2 separate regions of the Homo sapiens genome follow, and region 2 is linked to region 1. The links come from fine-mapping of genetic effects on gene expression. A gene starts in region 1. The other region holds a variant in brackets. All regions are shown on one strand. Distances are between the middles of the regions. Region 1 holds the start of AKAP8 (A-kinase anchoring protein 8). Region 2 holds the start of CYP4F8 (cytochrome P450 family 4 subfamily F member 8).

The links. PIP is the estimated chance that this variant, and not a neighbour inherited with it, causes the effect. A credible set is the group of variants that fine-mapping cannot tell apart.
Region 2: its variant is the best candidate, but not a certain one, in a credible set for the expression of AKAP8 in uterus (GTEx, PIP 0.52).

The regions. Positions count from the first base shown.
Region 1 is chr19:15,377,066-15,382,278 of GRCh38, reverse strand. It overlaps AKAP8 (A-kinase anchoring protein 8), which reads left to right and starts at 2,492. Exons shown (of 14, transcript NM_005858.4): 1 at 2,492-2,566. The coding sequence starts at 2,548. It overlaps AKAP8L (A-kinase anchoring protein 8 like), which reads left to right. Exons shown (of 14, transcript NM_014371.4): 13 at 1,667-1,762; 14 at 1,849-2,229. The coding sequence ends at 2,157. RefSeq lists silencers at 1,867-2,356, 2,697-3,246 and enhancers at 1,521-2,435, 2,207-2,501, 2,436-3,351.
Region 2 is chr19:15,614,438-15,619,650 of GRCh38, reverse strand. It overlaps CYP4F8 (cytochrome P450 family 4 subfamily F member 8), which reads right to left and starts at 4,433. Exons shown (of 13, transcript NM_007253.4): 1 at 4,371-4,433; 2 at 3,837-4,035; 3 at 1,507-1,651; 4 at 108-161; 5 at 1-16. The coding sequence starts at 4,034. The variant A/C (reference allele first, on the strand shown) is at 3,170.

The sequences.
Region 1 (5,213 bases):
AGTGAACTGAGAGCCCCTGCACTCCAGCCTGGGCGACAGAGCGAGACTGTCTTAAAAAAAAAAAAAAAAAATTTAAATGTGAAAAATGAAAACCAAGATCAGAAAATAGTTAGAAAATTATAAACTGTGGGCGGGTGTTCCAGTGTGCTTACCAGAGCACTCACTCGCCGGTGGGCAGGGAAATGCCGTGGGAGGCAGCAGCACAGATTCTTCTGTCTTTTATCCACAGCAAAAATACCCAACAGTGACAACATCCAGTGCTGATGGGCAGGCAGGAGGACCAGGTCATTGTTTTAACACAGGTGGAAGAAGCATGACTTGCAAATGTTCTGCAGTTAATTGGGCACTATCACTTTGAAACCAAACCTGGTTAGAATGAAAAGCACCAGCATGGAAGTGTACAAGTTTATTCTAGTGTTGCTGGGTTATTGTGGAGAAGATCTGGAAGCAACATAAATGTGCCTCACTTGGGAGAATTTATGGTGTGGTTATCTGGGCATCTAGAACCAGGAGGATAAACTGTTGGCAAGTGAGAGTCACTGGGGGAACGGTCTATAGTAGTATCCTAATTGTGTATCTTTAGTTTATTGTGAGCATGTATGATGTCTGTTAATATTTTCCTCCAGTAGTAGAGAAAACGTGCTAAGGAAAAAAAAAAATGAAGATGGAGAGAGTAGAAACAGCAAGTGAGAAGGCTTTCTGAAACATGTAAATGGAGTGGGAAGGACTCAATGGGCTCTCCCACCCCACCAAAAATATCCTTCTTTTACCTTATGGTTTTTATAATGATCAAAGTGAGATTTGCCTGTACTCCCACCATGAGATGGCCCAGCATATTGATGGAAATCCTTCCAGACAAAATGGCTCTGGCATGCTCTGCAGACAGTACTATATTATACACCTTTCTTATGCCAGTGCAGAGATGAGCCCGATTTGAAGGGCTGCATGATGTTCTTTTGAATGTACGATTTATTTAACCTCTTCTGCACTGAGGAACGTTTAGGTGTTTTCCCATTTTTCACCACTACAATCAGTGTGCACGCATGTTTCCAGTTCTTAAATTTAGGATACGTTCTGGGAAGGGATTAATGAGACAGATTTTTACTTTTCATACATTGTGTCAAACTGCTTTCCAAAAAATACGGAAACAGTTGATCCTCCCACCAGCAGAGAAGACTCTCTTCACCCTTGCATGACTGGGAATAATTCTTCATTCTTGGAATTCTGTGGGTTAAAAAAGACGTTTCATTAAATATCTGTTCCTGTTTTTATATCTTCCCCGTTGGCCCCAAAGTGCTCCTTGCCTATTAGCCTAGTTGGCACCTTGTTACAGGTTGCACCCACCTTTGGCTCTTAGTTTCTTAATTGTTCACTGCTTATAGCTTTTTTGTAAGCAAATCAGATTTCTGTAATACAGCCGTAAAGTTAGAGATATATAGATCTGTATTTTTATTTACCTACAGTAAGTGTGGTGTGGAAGGAGAGGGAATTTGAACAAAGATCAGATAGGTTGTGGTTCCATGCTTGTGGAGTGGCCCTCCGTTGGTGGGGCTGGAAGTGCGTGGGTGCAGGGGCGGGGTGGGGTCCCTCTAAGCTGGCAGGGTCGGGGCAGCAACTTGTAGGGCACTCAGAGCAGCCTCTCCAGCTCCTTCTGCCCTGCCCGCAGCTCATGATGGAGCAGTCCAAGAAGTCCTCCCTCATGGTGGCCCGCAGTATTCTCAACAACAAGCTCATCAGCAAGAAGCTGGAGCGCTACCTGAAGGTGAGGCACTGGTCCGGGCCTGCCCTGTCCCCAGCTTAGTCCCCGCCTGTGCTCCCTCCCTTCAGTGTCCGCGCCCCTCCCCACAGGGCGAGAACCCTTTCACCGACAGCCCCGAGGAGGAGAAGGAGCAGGAGGAGGCTGAGGGCGGTGCCCTGGACGAGGGGGCGCAGGGCGAAGCGGCAGGGATCTCGGAGGGCGCAGAGGGCGTGCCGGCGCAGCCTCCCGTGCCCCCAGAGCCAGCCCCCGGGGCCGTGTCGCCGCCACCGCCGCCGCCCCCAGAGGAGGAGGAGGAGGGCGCCGTGCCCTTGCTGGGAGGGGCGCTGCAACGCCAGATCCGCGGCATCCCGGGCCTCGACGTGGAGGACGACGAGGAGGGCGGCGGGGGCGCCCCGTGACCCGAGCTCGGGGCGGGCGGAGCCCGCGTGGCCGAAGCTGGAAACCAAACCTAATAAAGTTTTCCCATCCCACCTCCGGGTTTCTCTGTTACTGTGCCGCGCGGGCGGGGCGGGGTGGGCAGAGGGGCGGGGTGCGCATGCGCGCGGGCCGGGCCGTCGGGCACCGCGGTGGGACCACAACTCCCATTAGGCCACGGAGCTGGATCGTAGCAGCCCGAAAGGCCAGCTGGGACGGCGAGGGCGGGCCCTCGTGAAGACCAGCCAATGGGGGCGCGCGGAAGTAGTGACGTGTGCGCCTGGTCTTCCAGTAGTCGATGGCGGAGGTGCGCTGAACGCATGCGTGCTGTGGTCGCCTAGTAAACGGGGCTGCTGGTGGGCCGCGTCGAAGACATGGACCAGGGCTACGGAGGTTTGTGTTGGCTGCTGGGTGCGGAGCGGGGAGGGAAGGCTCTGTGCGGGCGACGCAGCCGCTGCGCAGACTGCCGCCGGCCGGGCCTTCGTCCCGAGCGTGGTTGCCCCAGCTGGGCCCTCCGGAGAGGCGGCCAGGGCGCGCGCGCGCCGCTCATTGGGCTTTGGCGCCGTCGCTCCCGGGGCTCTGCGTGCGGATTGGCCGCCAGGCCCCGAGGAGGCGGGCGGGACTCGGGGTTGGGGCAGACGCCGCGGTGGGCTTCGTGGGGGCGTCTTAGACAGTGTGGGCCGTTTTTGCCCCTCACCTTCGGCGGAGTCCTTCCGGCCCCCAGCGACCCCGGGGTTTGCACTCCCGGCTTCCTCTTCCGAAGACGCCACAAAATGGCGGCGCTAGGGGGGCGGAGCTACAGCGTGGGGTTGTGAGGTCGGACCCGGGGAGCTGGGTCTGGGGCCGCGGGCGGACCGCGGGGGCCGCCTCTCTCCCGACCTGCCCTAGGCCCGCGGGGCCGTGTAGGGTCTCCGCTGGGCTCACGTGGCCCAGGGCGCCTGTCCCGGAAGCCGTCGGGCTGCGCGGGGTCGGGCCTTTAGTCCCCGGTGCAGCGCGGTGGGGCCGAGTGCTGCCGGCGCGAGAGTCAGCCTCGCCGGGCTCCAGCTCTGTACCCGGCGCGTGCTGGCTTGGGACAGGATGGTGAGGGGCAGATGCTGAGTGTTCGTATAAAGCTGGAAACCTGATGTGCCCTGGGGCTGGTGACATTGGCAGTTCTCCTTTAGGCAGTCTGTTGTGGTGGCCTGGAGGGGCCGAGGGGCTGTGCAGGAGGGAACGTGTCCTTTCCCCACTAGGATTTAGCGCTTGGCCTGCAGTAGGGCCGATCTTCTCGAGCTGCCTGCTCCCTGCTTCTGGAATCAGAGCCTTTTGGGAGCAAAGTTTGCCCACAGGGGATAGTTGGGACATGCTGGGTGGAGCTCGACTGGTTGTAGAGAAGCTAGTGGTCTGATCCTGGCTGCAGGAGCTCGAGAAGTTGTCGATCTTGAGAAGTGGCAGGGCAAAAGTATCCCAGCACCAGAAATTGCAGAGAGAGGTTTCGGTCCTGAGGCGGCAGCGTGCGCGGTGTGCTTTGGTGTCTTCCGGGTCCTAGCGAAGGCTCAGCCTGGCTCTCCTGGTCTTCCGCAGCCTGGGTAGATTTCACCATTCTTTCCCTTCTTTCCCATCAGATCTTTTCTGCAGGTATTGTATTCCTTCTTTTCATTCTTAGTTTGGAGAGGTTTTTTTTACCCCCTCTTCCTACCTGCCGAAAACCTTTCAGACACACTGGAGATAGTTAAGCTTCCCTGATTTCTTGTGTTTCCGGGAGCGTTTTAAGGTTAATAGTGCGTGCCACTTACACTAGAGCTTCACAGAGAAGCAGTCTCTCGAGGTTGGTTACTTGCTGTTGGAATCTGCAGTCTGCCTTTCTGCTGCACGGATGCGAATTTAGAAGGTTTTGCGGTATGACGGAGGGGAAGGCGTAGCATAGCAGAGGGCAAAACTCAGCAGTATGACTGGGTCAAGTCTCGTAACCCATGAGCCTAGCTCCCTTGTCTCTGAATGGCATTCCGGACAACAGGGTTTGCTGGGTGCTTGCGGTGTATCGGCACGCACTAGGCACTTAGCCGGGGGCGGGGGAGTTGTTCTGGTGAGGGAGACATGGATATGTTCCTGCCTCATCAAAGTGAAGTCATTTAACAGGCATGGTGGCCACCCGCGCGCAGCTCAGTGCTGGGCCCCAGGGACACAGAAATAAAGAGAACACAGTTCCCATTCTCCTTCCTGGAGGGACCAGACAGATGCCATAGTGGGCGGGGGGTGTGGAGGGGTGAAGAGTGCTGTCTGATGCCTTAGGGCCAGGCGAAGGCTCTGGGACTTAAAGGTCCAGGGGATCCGTGGAGGCCTTAAAAGTGGCAGGAAGGGCCTGGCGCGGTGACTCACGCCTGTAATCCCAGCACTTTGGGAGGCCGAGGCTGGCGGATCACGAGGTCAGGAGATCGAGACCATCCTGGCTAACATGGTGAAACCCCGTCTCTACTAAAAACACAAAAAATTAGGCGGGCGTGGTGGCAGGCGCCTGTAGTCCCAGCTACTCGGGAGGCTGAGGCAGGAGAATGGCGTGAACCCAGGAGGCGGAGCTTGCAGTGAGCCGAGATCGCGGCACTGCGCTCTAACCTGGGCAACAGAGCAAGACCCCGCCTCAAAAAAACAAAAAGTGGCAGGAAGTGCAGCTTAGAAAGATGCAATTTATGTCACTAAATTCCCATGCTTGTTTTCAGTTACGAAGTACTTGTGATGGCACTCTGAACTGGTTTCCTAGCTGTGTGGTGGGTGGGGGAACGTGTCCTCATGCTGAGTGGATTGTCTTGTGTTAGCCTCAGTTGTGGATGAAATCTTGGAGAGGTGAGGTCCTTGGCCAAGGTCCCTCTGCAGGGCGGAGCTGACTTCCAAGCCCACTTCCCACCCTTCTTTTTCTGCTTTGATCTCAGCCAGGTGGAATGCGATGACGCCATTAGCCAGTTGTGTGATGGCTTTTTTTTGGTGGGGTGGGGGGGAGTCTTCCTTCTTCTAAGGCTGGCACTGAACTGTAAGGAGATCCCTTTAGGAGTACCCCCAAAAGGAC
Region 2 (5,213 bases), 240 kb before region 1:
AACAAGAGCCCATCCCCTAGTACGGCAGCCAAAGGCTGTGGGCAAGGGCAGAATCTTCCCCTGGCCACAAAAGTTGGTCCCCGTCCCGTCCACCTACAGTTACTTACCCAGCCAGGGCTTCAGGGTCTTGTAGAAGACTATGTCCTTGTCTGTAATGGCATCTGACATGAATGAGGACCATCAGGGTCCATGGAGAGGAATAGAGGAGGGACTTTGGGTATGGAGGGTGGCTCCCAGCCAGAGGTTTGGACGTCTTTTCTCCAAGCCCAGCATAGCAGGAAGGAGGCCATGGGCAGAAGAAGAAAGGAGGGTGGGGGGCATAAAGGGGACCGGACTAGGCTGCAACAACACTATAGAGCAATGATACACCCTGACATGGTACAGCACACCCAGCATGTCTTGACATGGCTCCTACATGGTCCAACATGTTCTGCAACACCCAAGCATAAGTCAACACTCTACAAAACACATTTACAGAATAAGAGTTAAAGACAGAATTCTGATGATATTAGGTGAGACCTGGATCCAGTTGTGCCTGAAGGCCAACCTCCCTGGATGTTGCAGTCAATAGCTTCTCTTTAATGGCTTAGACTGCGTGGGGTTGAGTTTCTACCACTCACAATGGAAAGACACCTCAGCACCCATAGAGAGCCGTGGACCTGCCCAGAGTCACTCAGCATTTTGGGGCTTGAGCCATGGTCTCTGTGGCGTGATACCCCTTCTGCTGCTCTCCCTGGCCTGTCCAAAGATGGGAAGGGCAGAGGGCAAGGGTACGGCTCCAGGCTGGGGTGGTGTCTCCTATTGGAGATTCCTGGGGCCTGGAGCAAGAGGGCAATGAACATATGGTGGAAGTGCCACAGGATGGGATTAGAAGGAATCGACCCACAAGAGGTGAATGTCATGGAAATAGCAGCCTAGATCTTCCACCAACCACAACTCCTTCTCATCTTCTTGTCCTTGCTCTGGGCCTGCAGAAGGACAAGGCCAATGCCAAGCCTGGCCCGGAGCCTTGAATACTAACAATGCCCACTGCATCACCCTGCCCCTGCTTTAAAAAAAAAATTATCACTCATCGTTCCACACCCAGCTCCTGCTACGCCTCCTCCAGGAAGCCTTCCAGCCTGCCCCAGTAGAAACCTTGTTCTCCTATGCTCTGTCACAGCCTATCTCCTCCTGGCCCATTCTGAACCCCATGAAGTTGGGGATGTCTCTGTACTGCTCCATCTCTTCAAGTTTGGGGATTCCTCCAGGACAGGGCCTTGGATTAAGGCTTCTCGGGGCCCCAGTGGTTCCCAGAACAACACGGAGGTGGGGAAGATGGCAGCAGAGAGAAAAGACACTGAGGTTGGGGTTGGTGACTACAGGAAGGAAAGAGGAAGGTGGCTGAGAGAGAAGCAGGAAGGAAGGGGCTGAGTACTACAAGAGCTGCACAGAAGCTTTGGGGATGAGATCTAGAAGCCCTCCAATGTTCTCCTGTGCCCACCACCACAAGCTCTGCAGGAGTACCTGAGGTATTGATGACAGATCGGACGATGTCAGGGTGGCACAAGTTGATGATGGGAGTGATGGGGCCCAACCACCTCACAAAGCCCTGGGGGTAGGTGGCCACCAGCTGGGTCAGGACCCTCAAGCCCTCCTCTGTGGGAGTGACCTGCAAGCAAGGCAAGGGCCATCACCTCCTGTGTCCACTTGACTGGGTTAAGGGATGCCCAGATATCCAGTCAAACATTATTTCTGGGTATGTCTGTGAGAGTGTTTCAGGAGAGATTAGCATTTGAAGGAAAACTGAGGAAGGAGGATCTCCCCTTCCCAGTCTGTGTGGGCATCATCCAATCTGTTGAGGGTCCACGTAGAATGTAAAAGTGGAGGAAGGGTGAATTTGTTTTCTCCTCTGCAGCTGAGACATCCATCTTCTCCTGCCCTTGAACATTAGAACTCCAGGTTCCCAGGGCTTTGGACCCAGACGGAATTGCACCACCAGTGTCCCTGATTCTCCAGCTTGCAGAAGGCATAGAGTGGGACTTTTCAGCTTCCATAAACATGAGTCAATTCCTATAATAAATGCCCTCTTCTGTCTCTCCATAGATTAGATAGATCATAGACAGACAGACGGACTGATAGATAGATAGATAGATAGATAGATAGATAGATAGATAGATAGATAGATGTAGATATTGATATCCTATTAATTCTATTACTCTGGAGAAATAAATACATTTCCCAGGAGGAGCCACAGCAGGTCCCACTGCAGGCTTTAGAGGTGGCACAGCCTCTGCAATGAACAGCATGTCCAGATTCTGCGCACATAGGGGTAATCTCCACTCCCTCCTGCTCCCTTCTCTTGGGGGCAGTATCTAACTTCCAAGGCTACATCCCAGGGAACAGGGGGAAGACAAACTGTCTGTTCATGGAGAAGCCCACCTTGAATAAAGAGGATGGATTTTCTCATCCTGGGAGTGGCTCCAGCCCACGGAAAGTCACGTGGGGTGGGCTCCACAAGTGTGGTGTGTGGGCAGCAATGTGGCCTCAGGACATGTCCCCAGGGCTGGTCCCCACATCCTTTTATGTCCTGGCTGGGCCTCAGGGGCCCCAGGCCCTCCCATGGAGAAGGTCTGTACACGGTGGAACTTCCTTTCTCAGCAGCCCCCAGGGGAGAAGAGGTGGCTCTAACTGTCTGTCAGGAAGAACAGCGGCTCTCACCAGGGAGCACCTTTTGCACATCAAGCTCAGAGCTAGTCCGTCCTGTGTTCCCTCACCCTGCACCTGTGGACACACCCATCATTCCTGCCATTTGCCAAAGAACAGACTGATGCCAAATCGCCCAAAGGGGACAGCAGGTCTAAGTGAAAGGGCAGGGTCTGAAGGGTCAAAGGTAACTTTAAAGAGGAAGTCACTGGCCAATTTTTATCCAGGTTGGGCAACACAACTCATTGGGACAGCTTAGTGGGGATAAAGAAGATGCCCCTGCACGGGGGAGGGTGGAGATGGCACACATCTCTCTTCTGGCCCAGCTGTGTCATGATGTGAGGGTAGGGGGTGTATAGCTACTTCCTATGGGAAAACTCCAGCCCAGAGATGGATGGACACAAGCAAATGGGCCAGGCAGAAAGTGGGTTCTAGACAGTGAGCCCAAGAGGCCTCCAGTACAGCAGTGGATAATGTGGAAATA[A/C]TGGTGAATACCTGCTGCGTAACCCCCACTCTGCCACAGGAACCCATCAGAGGTTCACTAGTGTACTGAAAACAGTCAGGAAAAGAATTCAAAACAGTCTAGGGGTGACTTCCCCTAGACAAGGAGATGAGAAAGGCTTGGCATGGCAAAGCAGAGGAATGAGTGAGCAAGGAGAGGAATGAGTGAGCGAGGAGAGGAATGAGTGAGCGAGGAGAGGAATGAGTGAGCGAGGAGAGGAATGAGTGGGTGAGGAGAGGAATGAGTGAGTGAGGAGAGGAATGAGTGAGTGAGGAGAGGAATGAGTGAGTGGGAAGAGGAATGAGTGAGTGAGGAGAATGAGTGAGTGAGGAGAGGAATGAGTGAGTGAGGAGAGGAATGAGTGAGGAGAATGAGTGAATGAGGAGAGGAATGAGTGAGTGAGGAGAGGAATGAGTGAGTGCGCAGAGGAATGAGTGAGTGAGGAGAGGAATGAGTGAGTGAGGAGAATGAGTGAGTGAGGAGAGGAATGAGTGAGTGAGGAGAGGAATGAGTGGGAAGAGGAATGAGTGAGTGATCAGAGGAATGAGTGAGTTTCTCTGCCGTCCCAGACCCGAGCCCACCCCCTCAGCCTGAGCCCCATTTCCACCCTTCCACCCTGAGACACTAGATCCATCCTCCTGCCACTCACCAGGCCCAGGTGACCCAAGAACCAGTTCTGTTTCCGGGGCTGCGGGAAACACCGGAGGCGGCGGCCGTTGTGATAGAAGGCATAGGTCCAGGCCAGGATGCGGGCCAGGAGCCAGGAGGCCCCGACCACCAGCAGGAGCAGCCACGGGGATGCTGCCACCGGCCTGAGGCCCAGCCAAGACAGGCTCAGCAGCGACATCCTGCAGGGCAGACGGGATGGAGGGTGAGGTCCTGAGGCCTAGGAAAGGGGCTGGGGAGCTCCAGGACCAATGATGGGTAAACATGGTTAAGAGCATGGAGGGAGATTCAGGGAATCTCAGGGGAAGAGGCCAAGGGAGAGGGGAGAGGAGAAGTGACACAAAATTAGAGATCAAGGAAACTAGAGACCAGAAACCAGACAGCCTCATCTAGAACCACCAGCCAACTTGACCTCTGGTTACCTGCAAGCACCCATCACCAGGGCCAGCTCCCTGGAGCCATCCCAGTCTTGGGCAGTGCCCCTCCCTATCCAGCCCTGCCACCCCCAGCCTGGCACCTTCTGTCAGGAGAAGGTTGTCCCGCACAACCTCCTCTCCTCCTTTGCCAGGAGGTTTTTGCTCCTGGCCCCAGATCTAGGAAACACTTCAGGAGGCTGGGCGGGGCTGGACTAGCCAATCCTCACAGCCTGGATGCCTCCTTTGTGCCAGGGCAGCCAACCAAAACCCGGGGACTGGTGGGGACCATAACTGTAGAAGAACCAATTCAGGGTGACCGAGCATGGCCACTCAGTCCTTGGTACCTCTCATGTAAGGCAGAGGGTAAGTTGGAGGGCAGCCAATGGTGATCTGAGCCCCAAAATGTGCAGCCACCCTGCCTTTCCAAGACCAGGGGAAGGTAGGTAAAGGAATGAAGTGTTCAGATGCCAGGTGAGCTGGGTGAGGCCAAGCCTTCTCCCAAAACATCCCCCAAGTTCCCCTCCAAATGTGGGCCAGGAGAATGCTGTGCACCATTTCTCAGTGCAGATTTAGGAGATTCAGAGACAGAAGCCTGTTGCCCTCCACTGCCAGCCTGGCAGGAATTCAAGTCCTGCCTCCCAGCAGCCCAGGACCTAGGCTGAGACCTGACTGACAGGAGCAGGAACAAAGAATGCAGCACCACTGGGGATTACCCAGGGTCAGATTCTGGAGATAACGAGACCAGCTGGGAAAGCAACCTGGATGCTGGGCTCAGCATAGGAGGACAGAGGGGGCCTGTGAAGGGTAACGCTGAGGGAAGCTGAGAGCAGACGAGGTCGAGACAGTGGAAGGCAGAGCCAGGGGACCCTGAGTGGAGTCTCCTTCTGCTCTGTCCTTGCTTTGATGATGGGCAGTACTGCCCCTCCTGGGCTCAGGCTTTTTTT